Linked DNA regions of Homo sapiens: region 1 is linked to region 2. Evidence: fine-mapped expression QTL. A gene starts in region 2. The other region holds a variant in brackets. All regions are shown on one strand. Distances are between the middles of the regions. Region 1 overlaps CYTIP (cytohesin 1 interacting protein). Region 2 holds the start of CYTIP (cytohesin 1 interacting protein).

Region 1 (5,348 bases), 29 kb after region 2:
ATGGCTGTATTTGGAGGAGGGGTAAGGCAAGTCAGATCCACTACTGCGTATCATGACGCAGATGCACATGCACACAGATGCACATGCTCGAAAACAGGCACCTGGAGATTTTAGAAAATCATTGGGGAAGATTGCCTAACTTTCCTTCTACTTCAGTGAATGAATTACATTTCTGAAAACAATCACGGCTAAGGGGCTGTATAGTTTTTAGAAGCTATTAAAGCTGGAATGGTTGCACACTTATTGGGTAGAGCTCCTGTCTTTTGTTTAAATTGCATAAGTTGCATTTATGCAGAGAAATTCTTTTTCATGGCCCCCAAGACAAAGACATAAATGCGTAAGATGAATACAACAGTAAATGCATAGCTCTTGCCATTGAGTGCATTTTTAAGGGAAGGGTTGAGTTTAAAATGTGTTAATTCGCTATTTGTTGTATGATAGATGTAACCAAAGGAATGAACTTTTGTGTACAAATAATTCACTGAAACCACTACGTGGGTGTGAAATATAGCTTATCTCTTCTTTAAATAGCACCAAGCTTAAGTCTGTAACCTAGAATATCTGTTAAAAGTGATAATCAATTTGTTTACCAAAAAAGATAACAATTTAATCCTTAACTAGTCACTAATTTATGGCTTAGAGTTCTGGTATGAACTTCTGTTTTTTTTTTTTTAAATTGAAGTGTTTGAAACTTATGTACAAGTTACTTCTCTTTTTTATGTCTTCATTTAATATTTTTAAAAAATTCATAATAGTTCTTTTGGGTAGTGAAGTTTGTTAGAGAGGCAGAAATATTTAATACAAAAACTTCTTTATGGCCTTGTAAATTCAGCCACCTCCTTGCTTTCTTTAGACATGAGGGCTTTTTAGCCTCATTTCCACTTCTGGAGCATCCTGAATGGCCCAGTGAATATAAATTCTTGCTGTTCTATAGAAACAGCCTTGTATAGACAACATTGTTAGGTCAGGATCCTCATAAAGTCATTGTTGTACATATTTTTTGAGCAATTGAAGGAGTTCTGCTTTTTCTAGATGTATAGTAAACATCCAGGGCATGTGATTCTATAAGGCAATTGCTCTCCAATCAAAAGAAATTCATCACTTATTGCAAGATGAAATGAAGTAGGTTGTATTAGCAAAAAGGAAAGCATTATGACTAGTCACCATGGGGCTGGCTGTACTCAACCTTGCAAATCATCTGAAAGAACAGTTTCTTTTTATATTGTCAACCGAGGACAAAAGACAGCAGCAGTGGAGATAATCAGTACAAAATAAAACCATTTTAGAGTGTACAGTATTCTATTATTTTTTCTGAAGCATAGTCACTTACTGATTACGTTTTTCCAAGGCTGGTATTACAAGTTCTCTCTCTCTCTCTCTCTCTCTCTCACACACACACACACACAAGATACCAACCAACTCAGTTAGTGTGGAAGCAGGGAGGGTCATATTGGTATGTGATTAACATTAGAGTTTGAAGAGCCAGATGTACGTTGTTAAGGATCAATGAAAAAAATTTAGCCAAGCAGATAAAATTCAATTTCTTCAAATAAATTATTACTTACTTGAGGACAAGGATGATTTCTGGGTACAGTATCATTCCAGAGAATTTAAGTATTCCAAAACGAAACTGGGAATATTGAGGTTGGAAGATACATTTGATTTCACAAATCCTTTCTCTAAGAAACACTTTTGAATTACCTGTTCCATAACTGTTTTCTATTTACTTCAAATGGTTTTATAATAATTTTAGAATTATTTTTAAAAGACAGTACCTAAGAATCAGAGAAACTAAGTGGAGAAAATCATGATAGTATTTCCCCAAGTGTATTCTATGGAACCCCATTTCTGTGAGAATTTTAATAAAAGGTTTCAGGGTTATTTAAATTTAAGAAATGATCATTTTGGAGGTTCAGATGCCACACTGGTAGACTGTCAATTGGGCTGAACTGTTCTCATATGAAACATCTTGTTTAAATTTATTCTAATATTATAATTTTTGTGACCATGGAACCTTGGTCTATGAACAATAGTTCAGGAAACCCTACTATAAGGTTTATCAAATGGTCTCATAAACAGTTACTTATTCAAGCACGCCAAAGCTCAGTGAAAAGTATTTTTCACCCTTACTCTTTCTCGTGTCATTCAAAGAGAAGTTTTGATGTAGTGTATTTATTTGTAGGGAGTAATGAACAGATCCATTTCACAGTAGACTTTGTGCTCTAGGTGATGCAGCTAATTGCCCCAGTTTGGAAAACATGGACTTGGATGAATTGTCTTTGTTTGGACCCCTGCCTGGGCCAGGCCCAGCCCTTGTGGACCGGAATCGATTATCCAGTGAGAGCAGCTGTAAGAGCTGGCTGAGCTCCATGACGATGGACAGTGAAGATGGCTACCAGACGTGTGTGTCTGAGGACTCCAGCAGGGGTGCCTTCAGTCGGCAGACGAGTACAGATGATGAGTGCTTTATCCCCAAGGAGGGGGATGATTTTCTGAGGAGGTCATCTTCAAGGAGGAACCGGAGCATCAGTAACACCAGCAGCGGATCCATGTCTCCCTTGTGGGAGGGCAACTTATCAAGCATGTTTGGGACCCTGCCCCGGAAGAGCAGAAAGGGAAGTGTCCGAAAGCAACTCTTGAAATTTATCCCTGGCCTTCATCGTGCTGTGGAAGAGGAAGAAAGTCGCTTTTGACGGATTGTGGTGTCCTTTCAAATTAGCTTATTTCACAAATATCTCTAGACTCACCCAGATCCCAGCTTGGTGGGAAAGTGCAGAAGAATTGCAAAACTGACATCCCATTTCACAGCAATAGTGACCTTTATTTAAATTGTTGTGTTATAGTTTATGCTTCTTAAATCATTTTTCAACCTAAACAGCCAATTTCTAAGCAGACAGGAAAACTAAATAATAAGTTAATTAATATAACAAAGATGCAGGTTCCTGCTCATTCCAGTAATGTCTTTGAAAGCAAAACTAATATTTATTTTCTAGATTATCCCTGTGAATAATTGAGAACTTTTTGGAGTCAAGTATGAATAAAGGTGTGGCAGAATATAATAATCTGGACTATTTTCTATAGGATAATTGCTGGGTTATAAAATCTTAGGTTTGCTTATGCCCAGTAGCTCCTGCGGAGGCTTAATAATAGGCAATTTTGAATTTGTTCAAACCTGTAATGGCTTGTAAACAAAGATGACCATCAGCTGTTTCTCACATCTATAGTGACAATAAAGCGGGAAGTATAAGATTTAATAGGAGGGGTTAAGGTTCATGAGAACCATGGAAAGATGTGGTCTGAGATGGGTGCTGCAAAGATCATAATAAAGTCATTTTTATAGACAGTCTAAACAAAATGGGTGGGGATGTC[G/A]TGTTTTTTGCCCAATTCAGCTTTTGTTCTGCCTGAACATTAATGGCAAGTCTAGAACTCTCCGAATCCTACAGCTTTGTAATTTTTTTTCTACAAATGTCTAACATCCAAAACTGAGGGTTGGGAAAAGGACTTCCCTCCTGTAGTTTTTTTCATATTACTTCTCACTTTATATCTTATATTCTAAATAGCTATCACCTCAGCAGTCTTTTGCCTATTGGTTATGTTAGTATCACATTACTTCTAGCCTTTCAATTACTCCATGTTTTATTTAATATCCATTGAAGTCTATGAATTCTCTGTTCTGGTGGCACAGCTATTCATAACCTATATTCTAGAGTAGACAATCTGGACTATGTAATAAATAGTCTGCTGATTTTAAGTTCTCTCTCTCTCTCTCTCTCTCTCTCTCTCTCTCTGTGCGTGTGTGTGTGTGTTTGGGAGAAATAGAAACACTTCAATTTAAGTAGAGCTGCTAAATTTAATTAAACTTCTGCTTAAGAAATGAGTTATTTTGAGATAAAAGAGGGTAGGGTAAGGAAGCATCTAAGATGAGAAAGAAATGATAAAGTATGAAAAGATTTCTAGTTGGGACTTGCCTTCTATTAACTCTTTGAACTGAGAAACATCCAGTGGCCTGTGCATGACAGTCACTCATATGAAAGGCAGGGTGTCACACCTTTCACAGAAATGATAGCAATACTGTCTACCATTTACTGAGTACCTAGTTGGCTAAAGACACTTTACGTATGATCCTCACAATTACTATATAGTAGGTGTTAGGCATACAGATAACAAGTCAGGAATTTGGAAATGTTCTCAGGGTCACAAGGCTAGTCAGTGGCAGGGCTAAAATTGGAAGCCAGTTCTTCCTTGCTCTAGTCTATTCCAGATATCTTTTACTCTTTTGGTTCTGTTTAGTGATCATCACAGTACTTTTTATTCCACCCAACAGGAATACTTAAAATGTACAATTATAGATGCTGCACAGATAAGAGCATTTCTTTGGGTAAATAGGAAAACAAACATTTCTCTGTTCCTCATATACAAGTTTCAGACATAGGTTCTTTAATAACTACATGATTAGCAGTGCATTTATTTTCAACAAGAGCTTGCAAACCAGTTATGATTCAACTGGTATTGCTTATTTCTCATCATAGTCTAGAATCATCCTGTTAAAGGTCTACTTATATGAATTCAGCATTTCTTGTTATCCTATTTCACAAAGTCCAGGGGAAGGAAACACCACATTTATTTGAGGAAAGATGACTTTGAAATCTTCTACAAGGTGAAAAAATGCTTTGAGAACTACACAGAATGACATAGGTCATACGGGAAAGCAGACCATAGATCATTTGCTTTTCTTGTGATTTTAATACAGAAGTGTAACACTGCTGTATGACAGTAGACCTCAAATGCAAAAAAGGGGCAGGGAAGGGACGGAGCAAGCATCACTTTAGTTTGCGGTAAGAATTAGAGTCGAGGTATGTTCTGAGAATAAAGAAAAAAGTACTGGTTAACCAAAGTACAGGAAGGAAGGGTATGTCATGTTCTATATTTCACAAGCTGTAAGAAAATTAGCTTTTGTTTAGTAGAAATGTGGGTAAATTTCTCACAGTATAACTTTCAGACTAATTTATGACTTCAGTCAGGCTTTAGAAGAAACTTCTGGTGCATAGTGATTCATTCTGATATAATTTACTAGGGAAAAAATTGAAAAGTGTTTTTTTAACTTGAAAGTTCTCAAATATGTATTACTGGTGAATTCCATTAATTGACAACCTGTTATGAAAATGCATTTTTCTAGAAGGGCATTTGATAAACCAAATTTGAATCAAGTAGATTGGGAATTACTTTATCATGTGGCTGAAGAACACAACCATGACAAACAGATTAGTAATATATTTTTGGAAGTGAACTTTTATTTATGACTTTCTACCTTGTAATAATTTTATATCTTAAGATACAGATAGCATTTA
Region 2 (5,393 bases):
ACTTCGTTTAACCTTAAATGATTCATTAACCTCCTTATAGGCCCTATCTCTAAATACAGACACATTGAAGCTCAGGGCTTTAATGTATGAATTTTGGGGGGATACAACTCAGTCCATAGTCTTTAAAGCAGCAGAGCTAGGACTTGAATCTAAGTAGTGTGACACTGGAACCCTGTTGTCAACCCTCTTACAGCTGCCTAAGATTTTCATGGATGATTGTAAGGTTGGCTCAGTTTGTCTTGCAAACCTTTCCACCTTTCTTTCTCTGTTCCGTGCTTTAGGTATATTCCTCTCACCTGACTCTACCAAATCTCCATGTTGTAGGCCCTCAGTGTTCATCTCATTTGTACTAAAGATTAATTCCTTCCAAGGGTATTTGCATATTTATGAACAAAATGTTCCAAATAAGAGCTTTGCCCCACATAACAAATATTAGCTTTTAGAGCATAAAGGCAGATGAGACGTATTTTTAAGAGACTCTGTCCTCATCTCTCAGATCACCCCTTAGTGAAAATTGTAGCACTTTGGAATATGGGCTTGTAGTACATACATTTCCTACCAAATTAATTTTTTTCCTTATTAATACCACAGAACACTATTGTTTAATCATTTTGTTTAATATCTACCTTTCTCTTTTTATTAACATTTATTGAACAATTTTTGTATGTAGGACATAAAGTATACATTTAAAGATAAAAGATGTTCCTTGCTTTCAAGGAAATTGGACATTAGCAGAGAAACAGATTTGTATACAATTAACTATTGCCCTAACTAGAATATATTAAGTCTCAAAAGAAGAATCTAAAAAAATGATATGACATTTCAGAGAATGAAATCAGATAATATAAAATAATTTTTATTTTATTTTATTTTTTTGTGAACAGTGAGATACTCCTGAAATCTTTTGAGTACCTAGGTAGCTTGATCCAATTCATTTCCAGAATCACCTCTCTAAAATAAATGGGAGGCTGAAGGGGAAGAGAGTCTGGTCTATTATAATTTTCCTAAGGTAAATCCTAAAAGAAAAGAGATGTTCTAAACAGTAGAACACCTTTGTAAGTCAAGGATTTGTTGTTTGGAAGTCACATTCCCCTTAAAAGATTACTGTTTCTCCACCCTTTATCACAAGGGACACTTTTGATCATGATATTAGTGACTGGCATGACACAGGCACTGACAGAACAGGGAAATGACCAATAAAAATAGACTAGGTCAAAAATTTGTAATTAACAGGTGTGACCACATTGATATGGGCTGGCTGGATGTCAGAGGTACTTTTGACCCTTGTTTTGTATCCAGGTATCCCATTATTTGAAAAATTTTACTTAACACATTTCATGAGTTAAGTAATAAGTATTTTCCAGTTTCTTAATTGAATGATGATCTATGATTTACATCAGCTTAAGGTCAGTATTACAATGAATTGGTACAATTTTAGTAGTCATTTATAAAAATGGGTGAGTCAGTTGGCCTGAGTGGGTGGCCTTATATTAAGCAAATGTATAATTTCCATTTGGCATTTTAAAATATTAAGAATAAAAATTAAAAATATTTACCTAACTTTATCAGATTCCTAGGGTACAGTGGACTGCTGTCATCCATTAATAGTGATGATTTAATTTATGTGCCTCTTAGCCTGAAAATGTTTTTAAAATCAATCTCTCTCTCTGTCTTCCTAATACACACACACACACACACACACACACACACACACCCCACATATACCTGTATACATATCTGTACATATCTATAAATATAGATTTTACGTGAATATCTTTATAATTGATGTATTCTTTAGTTGCCAAGGTATTTACCACTCCCTTTTGCCTTACACATTTATGTTACTTACCTGGCTTCTGAAAACGTATGTGTTTTTAATTCCTGATTTAGACCGTTATATGTTTGTGGTGATATCACTTTGTCCATGTCAAAATTCAATTCCAGTATAATGAGTCATGCTGTGATAGAGTTTTTAAAATCTATAATTGGCTTCAACTTTTGAAGCACTATTAATTCAGATTTTACTATTTATATTTGGCAATTTCTACTTGAGTTGAATTCATCTTCACTTCCAGTACACACACATTTCATTTTAGTTCAAAGATTTGCTAACTCTTTCAAATGCTAGTATTGATCTTCAGAGATTTTAAAAAGCACATTTGACTTTTTGTGCCATATAAAACTTCTCTTTTTGACTTTTGTTTCGATTCTTCCTTTTACTTGCCTCCCCTACTCCTCCACTGAAACCAGTTCTCTCAAAACTACCTGCCCCCAACCTCAGCCAAAGGAAAAAAAAAAAAAGCATCTGTGATCTTGAGTACTTGGTGATGGTGCCCTTGACCCATATGCACATGCAGGGACCAACAGGCAATGTTCTTGGTGCCACCTTGGTTTGCCTGTTACCTTCCTGCCCACTCCTTTCCTCCCCTGGGACCACTTGCTGATGCTGCCGCAAAGTCTCGTCTAAGAAATGGCAACATTGTGCCCTAAATGTGCTGGCTTTCCCTTCCCATTGTACTTTGTAAAGATCATGGGTAATTTTTGTAAGGACAAAGTAGTAAAAGGACAACCAGAAGAATGCTGAATGGTTACAACCTCAGTGGCAGATATAATGTCTTTTTGATGAACATTAATGATCTAGGGTATACTTCAGGGAAAGTACAGTATTACAAGGACTTCGAGAGAGAACATTATGACCGGCACCTGTAATTCTTGCCCATATTCACAAGAACTGAATGTCCTCGTGTGCTGACTTCTGCATTGCATTGCTAATGTTAAGTAAGAGAATGGATGGGAAACAAATGGTAGCACTTGGGGACATTTTTCTTTCTTCTCTAAAGAAAAAAATGGCAAATGGTGGTGTGAATGCAACTTGCCACAGAACATAAAAGCGTAAGAATTCTGGCTGTTTGAGGTGAAAAAATAAGTTGATTTTTCTTTAAATTGTAAAAATTAGCTCCAGGTTCTCTCAGGAGCTTAAAGAAAAAAAGCTTTGAGAAATGGGAGTGAATAGCAAGATAGGGTTTGTGTAACAAGTTCCTCAAACCACAGAGGTCACATGGGCTCTTTCTGCTTTGCTACTTTTGATTACTTGTCACAGTTGTACTTTTAGCTTCCCCCATCCTGCAAGGCCACTCAACCATGTGCTAGCTGGAGTGATCTTTATTCACAATGTCTTTACAAAGGCTCCTGCAACACAGCAGCAATGGCAATTTGGCGGACTTCTGCGCTGGGCCAGCGTATAGCTCTTACTCCACACTCACCGGCAGCCTTACGATGGACGATAATAGAAGGATTCAAATGCTAGCAGACACGGTGGCTACTCTGCCTCGGGGACGAAAGCAGGTATGATTGCTATTTTGTACCCTTTAGAGTGTTCACATTCTCTTGAGGGCAGAGTGATATGTTTGTCTGACTTCATACTAATGGTGATATTTTAGAGGCTTTGGAATTACTGGCTGATTATTATGGGTGAAGGAGGTGAGATGCTCAGGGAGCTAGGTGAACCAGTCCAAAGATTTGAGACCACAATCAAACTTTTTTTTCAAGGCAAAAATTAAGATTGTTTTTCTTATTTGAAGAAGTGCTCAGGTAAAATAAACATCATTAAGCATAAAAAACTTGAAGATGGTTTATATAGATACAACCAGTATGAGAATTAATTCTCTTTTCCCCATTGTGTCTCCACTGATTCTTTCCCTTCCATCCTTACTTGCAGTCCTTGATGGTCATTTCAGTTCATAATCAAATAAGAAATACTTTTTCTGAGGACAAATTTTGTTGACTAATTATCTTCAGCTCTGGGTTGCTGGCACATACCTCAGGCTATTGGAAAGTAAGATTTTTTTTTTTTGGATAGATGAGTGCCAGATTGAATATCAGCTCACCACTTAGTGTCTGTGGGATCTTGAGCAAGCCACTTGCCTCTCTAAGCTTCAGTTTTGTTTTTTCTAAAATGGAGTTAATAATAGAACCACCCTTATTGGGTTCTTATGTTGGTTAAATAAGGAACTGTGCAGTGCCTAACACAGTGACTGGCATTCAGTGTGTGTTTATTAAATGCTAGATTATGCCATTTTAATATTTTTATTGCAAAGTTTGTCTCTAGGGATGAAAACTCATTTGGAAAAATCTATGTCTAACTGAATTTATTTTGATTTTTTCGTTCTTCAATTTCTAACATGTAAAAATTTTTTTTTAACCATAATACCTCTTCAGGATTTTTTTTAAACAACTTGCTCTAAATCCCCAGGTACATATTTGAATTTCGATGTAGCATTTCTACAGAAAATATTTAGAATTGCCCTAGAGCAAGAATTTTTGCGCTTAAGTCTTGCATGTACAATCATGTGCTTCTCGTAAGCCTTCTAAATTCAGGATTAGAGAGGTATGGCATAGTGGGAGAGACATGATCTTTTTTCAGTGATGTATAATAGCTGATTCCTTGGTATTTTTCGGAGTGAAGATAAGGGCACAATTTTCCATGATTTGGATTATTGATTGTTCTCAATCTAAAGTGCTTTTATGATACAAAGTTTAATGTAATGATGAACATTTTATCAATCTACAACCTGTCTGAAGATAAAGCAACATGAGAAATGCTGACATCTTTTTTCAGTTTTCAGATATAAAGCAGTCAGATTTTCTTTATATTTGCCATGACACTATCACACCAACTATGGTTCACTTGATTAGGCTATGATTTTTTTTTTTTTTTTTGCTGGAGACTGTGGGTACTTTTTCAATCAGGGTGGGAACTTTCCACCCTCTATGTCCTCCATACCTGCAACCTTACTCATTTGATCTACTCTCTAGCCCATGCAATTCAATGCAACAGATGGTTTCTGAGCACCTACAAGGAGACAGACATCATGCTAAGTGTAGGAGGTAAAAAGACGAGAAGGGAATGTTTCCTACCCATATACTGTTTACAATTCAGTAAGCAGAAAGAATGGGTTTTCTGCAAAGTAAAACAACATGAATACTCTCATCGAAGTGAAACATCTGTAAATATAGCCTTGGAAATAGATATTCGAGATATTGAAGGGTATTCCAGATATTGAAGGGTATTCCAGAGCAAGGGAGAAATTGAAGCTGAGGCATAGATCCTGGTGCCTGGAGGACTTTTTTGTGTAACAACACAATATTAAGTGTGTCAGGAGAACCTGGTTAGTGTGTAGGAGGTGAGAGGAGATCTCAGCGCTGGGCTGCTTTACAGAACACTTGGACAACTTCCCCTGAAAAAGCCGGCACGAGGGCCACTGAACGTGTTTGAGAAGTAGAGGATTTCAGGAACCTTATTGTAGAAATGTAGTGGATTAGTGAGTAGAGACTAGTGGTGAGGGAGGAACTTTTGCAGTAGTTGGAGAAAGAGGAAATGGGGGAACAGAAAG

Evidence for each region. PIP is the estimated chance that this variant, and not a neighbour inherited with it, causes the effect.
Region 1: its variant is fine-mapped to the expression of CYTIP in whole blood (TOPMed, PIP 0.96). The same link has a PIP of 0.9 or more in NK cells.

What each region holds. Positions count from the first base shown.
Region 1 is chr2:157,413,022-157,418,369 of GRCh38, reverse strand. It overlaps CYTIP (cytohesin 1 interacting protein), which reads left to right. Exons shown (of 8, transcript NM_004288.5): 8 at 2,227-3,751. The coding sequence ends at 2,693. Among named protein-coding and RNA genes, the nearest start is that of CYTIP, 28 kb to the left of the region's middle. RefSeq lists an enhancer at 4,619-4,668. The variant G/A (reference allele first, on the strand shown) is at 3,370.
Region 2 is chr2:157,441,799-157,447,191 of GRCh38, reverse strand. It overlaps CYTIP (cytohesin 1 interacting protein), which reads left to right and starts at 3,103. Exons shown (of 8, transcript NM_004288.5): 1 at 3,103-3,345. The coding sequence starts at 3,172. RefSeq lists enhancers at 3,253-3,302, 3,343-3,442.